Regions from separate parts of the Homo sapiens genome. Here region 1 is linked to region 2. Evidence: fine-mapped expression QTL. A gene starts in region 2. The other region holds a variant in brackets. All regions are shown on one strand. Distances are between the middles of the regions. Region 1 overlaps LOC107984390 (a long non-coding RNA gene). Region 2 holds the start of TMPRSS5 (transmembrane serine protease 5).

Region 1 (5,379 bases), 28 kb after region 2:
CATAAATCCGACAAAGAATTCATTGCAATGGTCCTATACAAGCAATAGAGACCTATAGTAGTAGGTGTGTGTGTAGGGGTCATTTCTCCACAGAGTCTTCTGACGTTTGGGTCATCCTCTCTCAAGACTCCTCCAGGCTCACATTTATGGGGTCCAGACAAGAGTGTGGATAGAGGCCCGTATACCACATGTCTAAATAGTTCAGAGTAATACATCACCCTAACACACTGTTAAACTAAAAACGTTCTATCTTCCTACCATAAAAAATAGACCATATAAAAATATGGAAGGTCAGATCCAAATTTTGAATCCTTGAATTTTTGGATTCTGTCCTGGAGCTTGGTTGATGAAGAGAGTAGGCTTCTGGCCACCTTTTCTCCCCACGCCCTCAGCTAAGGGCTGTCTGCACAGCCGTGCAGACACTCCATCCTGCTTAGGGGTATGCCCAGCAGGGGTACCTGTGCAGCCTCTGGAAGCGGGCTCAGGGACCTTGGGAATTTCAGGATCTAGAGAGAGAGAGACGCAGGTCTGGGTAGGCACAGGACGTCAACATTGCAAATTCTCCCCTTACGGTGGGTCTGGTCAAAGAAGGGCCAGGACAGCAGGGCTGGGACTAGGGTGAGGCAGGTGACGTGCCTCAGTGCAAAATTGAAGGAGGCATCACTCTCAGGGTCATACAAAGGCAGGCTGGCTCCTGCCTCACTCTGGTCTTGGCCCTGCGGGGGGCGGGCCCTCTAAAGTGAGCAGCCCGGAGCAGGAAGGGCTTCTCCCATCTGGTCTCCATGGGTATTGATGGTTACTCCTAACCGTTGGAGTGAGACAAAAAGGCAAGATGACAGAAACAGACCTCTCTCCTGTGAGTCCCTACTTCCCTAAAGCACTGTAAAGCATCCCCTGATTACATTTCAGGGAGCTCCACGTCCGCATCAGCCCAGCCACCATGGTGGTCCCTGGGCTCATTCTCTGCGGAAAAGTACCCAGAGTGATTCATTATCATCCCCACTCACATAGCCTCCTAGAAATTAATGTCGATAAACACCAAAAAAAACTCTAGTGTACAAATACACCGTACTCCAGAACTCTCGCAGGGCAGACTTCAGTGAAAACTAAGGTAAGCCAAAGCTAATTAGGAAAAAAGGGATGTGCAGGGTCAAGGAAAAGCTGTGGAAGAGGAGCTGGGCTGTGAGTCCAGATGCATTTTGGAGAGGTCTGCATTAAACTAAATCACATAGAGGTGCTCATGAAACAGCGGAGAAGGTATGGGAGTCAGTTGTGGGTGTTCTGGAGCCTGTTGAGCAGGTACTGGCTGTTCAGTGTGTGGAGGCATTCGGTGGAGTGGGGCAGGGCGGGGGGGCTGCGTGAGGAGGAGGGGAGGGTGTTTCCCCAGGAGCTGGCAAGTCTGGGTTCTAACCTGGATTCCGGTGCTTGTTGACCAGCCCAGCTAAGTCACTGGACTTTGCTGAGTTTCTATTTTCTCCTTTGCATAATGGAACTAATAATATGTCGCCTGTTTAACTTGCGGAAAAGGTGGGAAGACCAAGTAAAGTAGCAAGAAGGCTTTGAAGGTTGTGTAGGGCTAGGACAGTGTAAAAGGTTGTGGTTAACCTGTGTTGGCAAATCTGCCAGTTGTCTTGTTTATCCAATCAAACCCCATTTACTGAATGTCTCCTTGGTGCCATTCCCTATCTAATCCTTGAGCACCCAGAGATGAATGAAATATCACTACCTTCACGGAGCTTACCATCTAGTCAAAGTAGCTATATTTATTGTTTGCTGTTAGAGCACAAATATGGAATATTTTGAAAGAGTTTGCTACAATTACTTTACAACCATTTATAGATAGATGCTTGTTGACAAGAAAGAATTGATGTGGTAAATGTAAAAATTTCTCATCTACTATCAGCATGTAGCATTTTAAGAACACCAATAGAGGCAAATGGTGTTTTGATTGCAACCTCAGAAGCATGGTTTCCATACCAACCTATTTGCACAGAATAAAAAGCCCAAGGCAAAATGCTGCTTCTAATTCACGAAATGGTAGCTTTGGCTCAATCATCTCTTTAATAGAAAAGACTAAGCCATGTTCCTCCCACCACAGTGCCCCACCAAAGTGTGCAGACTTACACACACATACATATGAACTGAACACACAGTGATGGTAAACTGGGCCCTTAGAGGAATTAGACCAGGCCCTTGGCAGAATTCTGGCCCATCACCTTATGTCTCTGGTCTCAGTTACCTCATCTGTATAATAGGAGTAACGCTGCTTCACAAACGTTATTCAGTGTCACCACGCTGAAATGGAATCAAAGGTATTATTATCTTGAAAGAGCATGGAAAAGAGTAGTCATGCAGGTAGTCCAGGAACACAGCTTAATCTGGAAGGGCTATTTCTGTGATCCTGGGAGGTGGGCAGGCATGGCATGAGAGGCTTGGCTGTCACTTCCTCCCCTTCTGTCCTCTTCCCTCTTCCCTCTTTCTCCTCCCTCTCTTCCTTCTACGTTATTAAACACCT[G/T]TGTGTGCCAGAATATAAAGACAAATACATCACTACATCAGCAGAAGCTCTCAATCAGGTGGGGAACGTGGAGATGCACGCTGATGATTTCACTATAGAGCCAGGCGTAAGGCACTACAGGGGCACCAATGAGCCATGGGCTGCTTAAGGAGATGCTGCTTGAGTTGGGTCCTGACGGATGAATTTCAGAACTGAGTTGGAGTGAGGGGAGGTGGCTGGGAGCGGGAGAGAGATAAGGGCATTTGGGACCAAGGGAATAGCATGAAAATACCTGACATTTCCTAGGAAATACCAAGTAGTTCTGTGCAGCTGGAGCAGGGACTGATGCCAGGGAACAAGAGATGCCAGTGAACAGTGTGTGGGAATGAGATTGCTATGCCCTTGTCTGCCAAGCCGAGGAGTCCTCACTTTGTCTTATGGGGAATGGGAGGAGCTGCTGAAAGTTTTCAAGTAGGAGAGAGTCACAATCATAGGCGTATAATGGAGAGATTGCATTGCTCTGGGAGAGGCGTGGAGGAGGGTTTTGAGGGACACTGGCATACATTATAACAATTATAGTGGGATTTCAGACTTCTTTCAATAATAAAATATTTATTTGGAACCCTTAAACACATAAGAGATGAGAGCAGTATTTTATGAGCATGCATATATTTTGTAATTGGTGATACCTACTCTGTATCGATGTGAATGATGTTGTTTTGATGAGCACAGGAAATTGAAATCAGGGCCTATGCATCAAATTACAGAGTTGTATCAGTCTTGGCAACCAGTTTCTCTCTAGATTTTGGTTTGGGTTGCATAGCACCAAGAAATCCCGATTTATACAGTTGAGTAGTTGCAAACAGCAATAGCCTTTTCACAGCTTGACTTTTAGTCTCGGGGTAATTTTTAATTAAAACGAGAAAACTTCATTCAGAGGCCTGCATAAAAATAAGTTAATCTGGCATCCTAAGCTAATGGGCTGGTGGCCTCTATGTATCAAAATTGGGTATATACCACATTGTCATTATGGTTTGTTTAGATGGTTAAAATAAATTTTAAATGAGATTTAAATAAAATGTTTGAGAACCCCCCTAGCCATATATGAGAACTGAAGATATATGAAATTATTCCTACCTTGAGAGTGAAGGGTATTTTCTGACTTATTTGTGTCCGTCATTCACTGGGAGACCACAATTGGCCTTCACCATGGCTGACGCTGGACTGTTGGGGTTGCATTGATAAAGACTTCTTTACTGTGGCAGTTGAGGAACTTCTCTCAAAAATATTGGAAAGCGGGGTGGGGGATGACTACACTGGGCTCATCTTTCTTATAGACAGTGTGTGAAATGTGCATAATCTTGGTCATTGTCTGAACCATGACTGTGGACATTGGGGAACTCACATAAAATGTTGCTGATGTCAGGATTTTGAAAGACCCCACATCCATCTGGAAACTTCTGTCTGTGTACTCCCAGGGAGCTCCATGCAGTATAAAAGTCCATCAAGAGGAGACTGGCGAGTGCTCCTTTTACTGAGCACTTGCTATCTGCTGGGTGCTGTTTTATGCGCTTTATATGTACTGACACTTTTATTCTTCACAGCATCCCTACAAGTTGATTGCTATTATTATTTCTATTTTACAAATGAGGAAATTGAGGCACAGAAGAGGTTAAACATCTTGCCCAAGTCACACAGCTAGCAAGTGGCAGAGCTTGGATTTGAATCCAGTAGTTTGGCACTAGAACCCGAATCTCTAATTACCATGCTCTAGTGTGCTTCTTTAAGGAAAGAATTCATATTGGACCTTTGAAGTCAAATCTCTTTTAATTGGGAATGAACACTGCATTTGTGCTTTAATTGTCCCTAATCATGCCCCCAGTGCTAGTCAGAGAATGTGGGTTCTATGATGATGTTCTTATGGCGATGTTCAGGATGGGGTTTCAGTGAAATCATATAATATGCAATACCAGTGGGGAGGGGGTACTTTACATCTATTTGACATTTTTTGAAATGTACTCTCTGGAGCTGGGCTTGAGCCAGGCATTCATGACACTCTCAGGTGCCATGAAGTCAGTAAATTATCCTCGGGGTCTGTGAGCTAGGCAGTCTCTGCTTTCTCTTTTAATTGCAGGATCCAAGGTACAAAAAGGATGGAGCAGACCCAGAACAGCAAGGGTAATGCTCAGGCTCTGGGTAAGGTGTGGTCCTGGCCCCTGAATCCTTCTCAAACCCACCCTTATCTGGCATTCGTCCTTCCAAGTAGAGAGAAGCTGCCCATTTAAGCCTCCATTGTGACAGGAGGCTGAAAAGTGTAAGAGAAGGCTGGAGTGAAAGTGAATTGGCAAAGCAACTAAACTGAGAGGAAACAGCAGGGTCGGAGTAGTGACTGCAACAAAGCCAGTCTATTAATGGAAGGTCCTAAGGGACCAGGCTGGATTTTCTCAAGAATGAACACTAAGCCAAGCTGACTGAATAAATGAAGACATGTCCATCAGGGACGCACTGATTGGCAGGAGCAACATGCTGTAAAATCAAGTCACAGTCAGGGTCGAAGCTGACATGTTTGCTGAGTCTCGGAGTGGCCACCACTCCTTAAAGCTGGACAAAATTTATTTCAGGATTCACGAAAGAAATCTCCTGCTGGGGACAATTTTATGGCACTCCTTACTCTGATATTCGAACCACAGAATGAAAATAGCATCAAGAAAGGATTTAATGAGTTCTTGGAGAGTGAAGACAGAAAGGGCTTATTAAGGAAAATCAGGGAGGCCCAAAGAATTTGCCCAACTGCGTGGGAGAGCCACTGTGAAGTTCAGCATGCTTCCCCTGACCCCTCTGATGCCACTGCACACCCAAGTATTCTTAAGTCATGATTTCCAAGT
Region 2 (5,379 bases):
CCCCCACATTTTCTTTTTAAGCTTTTTGTTTAGCCCTTTTTTTTTTTTTGCCTCAACTGTTATCCATTGTTTTAGGCAGCCACAAAGTCCAACAATTGTCTCTAGTTGTTTTCAACAAATACCCTTAAGGAAAAAGCTGTTCACTCCAGGCAAGCTTTGAGACAGGTGAAATAAAGACAGTCTTGCAAATGGTATCTTCCAGGGAACCACTAGACAGGTCAAATAATTACAACTCTCTGGGAATGAGGCTTTGAAGGAACTCCAAGGCTGTTCTACCCCTTCTTGTAGCTGCCAGGCTGCTGGTTTCCATGATGATTGTGGTTTGTTGGTTTTCAAAGCTACTGCAGAGTTGGGGTGAGGGGGATGGAATTGGAGCAAGTTAAAATGCCACAAGGCTCACTCTTCTTTCTATAATTATGTCATTTTTTTTCTTGAACGAAGACTTCCCAGATTGCTATAAACTTTTGATTAATTTCCAGAGTTCTGAAAAAATTGATTCTCACCATTTTTTGCCATTTTTCTCATTGCTTTTAGGGGGGAGGAAATTTTCAGAGGATTTTACTCCTACCATTTTCATTGACATTACGTGCAATATATTTTAATTACCCTTCTTTGTGATTGCTTTGTCACTTCTCAAAACTCAGTTCAAATGTCTCCTCCATTGCAAAGCCCTCTTCTTTGTATCCTCAGGGCAGCTATTCCTCTATTCTCCTATACCTCTGGGTTTATGTCTTTGTTATTTCACTTTTCATAATAACAGTTACTTACATCTGTTTCTATCCCTTTTTCCAGTCTGTAAGCACCCAGTCTGTGACTTGTTCATCCTCCATGCCCAGGCTAGTTTCTGACACACGGTAGATATTCAGGTTTGTAGTCTGAAGAGTATTGTCCTAGGAGACCTCAGAGCCTAGCCAAGGGCTTCTGAGTTCCAGCCACCATTTCTCTCCTTCTTCTATAATTCACAGCTGACCTCTATCTCTTCATTGTCTTATGTGTGCTCTGGTGTGATGAGAGTAAGTTCAGAATTGACACACTGAGTGTATGATATGGTTTGGATCTGTGTCCCAACCCAAATCTCATGTCAAATTATAATCCTCAATGTTAAAAGTGGACTCTGATGGGAGGTGATTTGATCATGGGAGTGGATCCTTCATGATCAAGAAACCTTCATGATTCATCATCCACTTGGTGCTATTCTCGTGATAGAGTTCTCATGAGATCTGGTTGTTTAAAAGTGTGTGGCACCTCCCCCTTCTCTCTCTTGCTCTTGCTCCTGCCATGTTAGAGGCCTTGCTCCCCCTTTTTCTTTCACCATGATTGGAAGCTTCCTGAGGCCTCCCCAGAAGCAGAAGTCACTGTGCTTCCTGTACAGCCTGTGGAACAGTGAGAACTTCTTTTCTCTTGAAATTGTCCAGTCTTAGGTATTTATTTATAGCAGTGCAAGAATTGACTAATACAGTGTATGAGGAAAATAGGGAGCAAAAAGTTAAATCCTGTGTGGGTGACATTCAGCAACAACAACAACAACAACAACAACAATAATAATAGCAGCTACTGTTTGCTGAATACAGTCTGTGCTAGACACCAGGCTATGGGCTTTATAGGCAATATCTCAATGAATTCTGACATCAACCCTATGAGGCATGTACTATTATCCTCATTTTACAGGTGAGGCTGAGTAAGGGAAGTGGGAGAACTGAGGTTGGATGAAGGCCTGACTCTAAAGCCTATATTCTTAACTGTCCCTTCTGAGGGGTTTTTGAGCAGCCAGTTGGAGGAAAGGAAGCCCCACCTGTGTTTGCCTTCCCCAGGACCTATTCTGCCTCCTTGTCTAAAGAGATGTGCCTGCTCCCAGGTGTGTTTAGCCCCGTGTGGGCTCACTTGGGTCACCTTGTGCTTTGAAACAAGATAGCACTGAGGGCTCCTGCTGCAACTGGCTCCCAGGGCAGACAGGGGTAGAGGCCCCACTTCCCTGGCATTGGGGAGACAGATGTGGCCCTCGGGCAAGAGGTGACAAAGATCTTCCATCATCACCCCAACAATTCCAACATGGTGACAGCCCCAGACTGCTAGAAAAGCCAACCCACATGGAGGCGAGATAAAATCCAGAGGGCTCAGAAACATTTCAACAAATGCTAATATCGGTCTCTCCAATACAGCTCTGTCAGCAGGAAGGGAGAATTCTGCCAGCATGCATGCATGGGGCACACTTTTTGGCACAAGGGACCTTGTTGCTAAGCAACAGTAGTTGGCCTCCCCTCCTCCCCATAACCTTTTCCTCTGTTTCTGAGTTTCCAGTTAGCAGATGGGAGGGGCTGGGGTTGCCTAGCCCAGCCCAGCCCTTGTCCCCCTTTCCTGCAACAAGGGGCCTATTCATGGGTCCTCAGCAGAGTTCATTGTCTCTGTGGCGCGTGTCTGTGTGAGTGTTGGAGTAGGGATACAGGGAGGGGCCATGTGCGAACCAGGGAGACCTCATCTTCCAACCAAGCTTGCTGGGCTAGCTTTAATCAATGCTGGCCTGAGAACAGGAGCGGAACATTGCCTAGTAGACCCTGAGGCTTTACAACAGTGCCACTGACCCCTATGGTAAGGTTACGTCTCTGTGCCATCCCTGCTGTGGCCTCTCTCTCTTTCTTTCTCTCTCCCTCCTCTGCCCTTGGGATTCTAGGCTGGTGGAAAGAGCCTCCTGAGGCAGCTCTGGTACAGGGGCTGGATCCTAGCAGGGGCCCTGTGTGGCCAATTTCCTGTTTCCTCCCCAGGGACTGCCCTTTATTATCCTCTTTCATCCCTCTTAGATCTATCAAGTGCTTTGCACATATGTGGTGCTCAACAAATCGTTATTACGTTGAACTTCCACTCAAAAAGAGGAGCAAGGAGTCCTGTAATTTTAAAGGCCATTTTTTTTTCTAGGCTAGCACATGAGCTTGGGCAGTTGAATTTTGAGGTGGAGCAGTACATGAGGTGAGGCCAGTTTATTCAGAGGCTGGGTTTAAAGCCAAGCTTCCTTGGTACTGAGGCAGAAGAAAAGACTGGCCATGCCCTGGAATTCTCTCTAGATCAGGCCTGCCTCTCCACTCAGAGGGACATCAGCTCAAGAGCAATCACACAACCCCAGAGAAGAAATCCAAACCTCACCTTCTGTTGCTGCTTCTCTACTATCTTATGGGTGCTTGACTGGCTCTCCCAAGCCTGCTGTCCTGCAGCCTCACTGCCTGTGTCCTGTGAGTCTCATCTGTAGGCACAAGAAAGAATGTGTGTGGTTTGATACAAACCATGACCTCTGTTTCTCCTGGAAAAGCAAGGCCTGCAGCTCTTGGGAGGTCCAGTCCTATAGGTCCTGGGCTGTGGCTGGTGTAGGGAATAGGGAGGTGGGGCTGGTACCTCTTTCTATAGGCAAGATGTTGGGGCTGCTGCGCTGTCTGTGAGCTGAACTGGCATGGGTGCTCTGGGTCCAGTGGAATGATTTTCGGGGCAATTTGGAGGTGACTGACCTAGGTGAGTCTGACAAAGTCTTTCCTTCCTCCTGCTGGAGGGTTAGGAAGACAGTTCAGTGGAGTACGAAGGCATGACTGGGGAGGTTTTGGCGTGAAAAGAACATTTCATGTGACACATGAAAATCACATTTAAGCCAATACTGTCCTGGAGTCAGCATTTCAGGCTTTTATCCTCATTGGGTACAACCCTATGTGTTGACAGGGAAAGATGCAGGGGAGACAGTAGTCTGCAGGGGAAACGGGAGTTGCTTCAGTTTTGAGAGATCTTATCTACCCTACTGGATTATAAATTTTGGGGGGAAGGATCCACAGCTTAGGTGTAGTTCTTATTAATATTATTATACTTAACATTTGTATTGGGCTTTACAATTTTTAAAGTCATTTTAATTCACATTATCTTATTTGTACCTCCCCCTCTGTCTCTCCCTCCCCCCTCCCTTCTTTCCTTCCCTCCTTTAATGTACTTTAACTGAATTCCCACTTTGTGCCAGGCTCTGTGCTTAGCCCTGGGATGCAAAAACCAGTGAGAAAGGAGAGAGAAGGAAGTAAATGAGCACAATATAGGGCCCAACAGGTGCTGTATGCATAGAAGGAAGCTTCCTGGAGAAGTGATGTCTGTGCTGAGTCTCGAAGGGTCAGTTGGAGTCAGTTACATGGGAAAGGGGAGAGCAGATGCAAAGTCTCTCTGTTGTGAGAGTGCCTGAAGGCACTGAAGTATGGCACGTATGTCAGTGTGATCCCAAATTTTGCTGTGGAGGGAGCAAGTGCTGGCAGTGAGGATGGAGAGGTGAGGCCAGGCGAGATCATGGAGGACTTTGTGAGCGATGCCATGGAGCTCCTGTTTGATCCTGAAGGCCACAAAGACTCATGGGGTAGAGATGGGGCTCACATGCTCATATTTGCATTTTAGAAAGATTACTCTGACTTTATGGCATGGAGAATAACAGAGAGAGACAAGATACTCGAGGAGGGAGATTATTCCTTGGAAAGCAGGAGTTATTACTCTTATTTTACAAATGAGAAAATTGAAATTTGAAGAGATGGCCTGAGTTGTCCAAGTTCACATAGTAGGTTGCAGACTTAGCTTTGAACTGTCTGGTGTTTTTTTTAAGATCTTATTTTCATTACTCCTCTTCATGGCTCATGAGCTGCAGACACACATATGACATACTCTGCTCTATGCTTTCTTATCCCTTTGCCTTTGCTGATTCAATCCTCTTTGTCTGGACTGCCCAATGCCCATTATATCAGCTCAAACCCTCTTCATCCCTGTGGGCCTGTCTCAGAGGCTGCTTTTTCTAGGAAGCCTTCTGTGATCACCTCAATGAGAAGTAAGCCCTTATTCTTTTGAATGATGATGGTAGTGTATTAGTCTGTTCTCACACTGCTATGAAGAACTGCCTGAGACTGGGTAATTTATAAAGGAAAGAGATTTAATTGACTCATAGTTCTGCATGGCTGGGGAAGCCTCAGGAAACTTATGATCATGGTGGAAGGGGAAGCAAACACACTCTTCTTCACATGCTGGCAGGAGAAAGAAGTGCAGAGTAAAGGGGGAAATCCCCTTATAAAACCATCAGATCTTGTGAGAACTCACTCACTATCATGAGAATAGCATAGGGGAACTGCCCCCATGATCCAATCACCTACTATGAGGTCCCTCCCCCAGTGCGTGGTAATTACAATTCAAAATTACAATTCAAAATGAGATTGTGGGTGAGGGGAGAGCCAAATCATATCATTCTATCCTGGTCCCTTCCAAATCTCATGTCCTCATTTCAAAACACAATCATGCCTTTCCAACAGTCCCCCAAAGTCTTAACTCGTTCCAGCATTAACCCAAAAGTCCAAGTCCAAAGTCTCATTTGAGACAAGGCAAGTCTCT

What was found. PIP is the estimated chance that this variant, and not a neighbour inherited with it, causes the effect.
Region 1: its variant is the best candidate, but not a certain one, in a credible set for the expression of TMPRSS5 in whole blood (INTERVAL, PIP 0.59).

What each region holds. Positions count from the first base shown.
Region 1 is chr11:113,675,336-113,680,714 of GRCh38, reverse strand. The region is part of intron 1 of LOC107984390 (a long non-coding RNA gene); the gene reads left to right. Among named protein-coding and RNA genes, the nearest start is that of TMPRSS5, 28 kb to the left of the region's middle. The variant G/T (reference allele first, on the strand shown) is at 2,516.
Region 2 is chr11:113,703,429-113,708,807 of GRCh38, reverse strand. It overlaps TMPRSS5 (transmembrane serine protease 5), which reads left to right and starts at 2,500. Exons shown (of 13, transcript NM_030770.4): 1 at 2,500-2,586. The coding sequence starts at 2,584.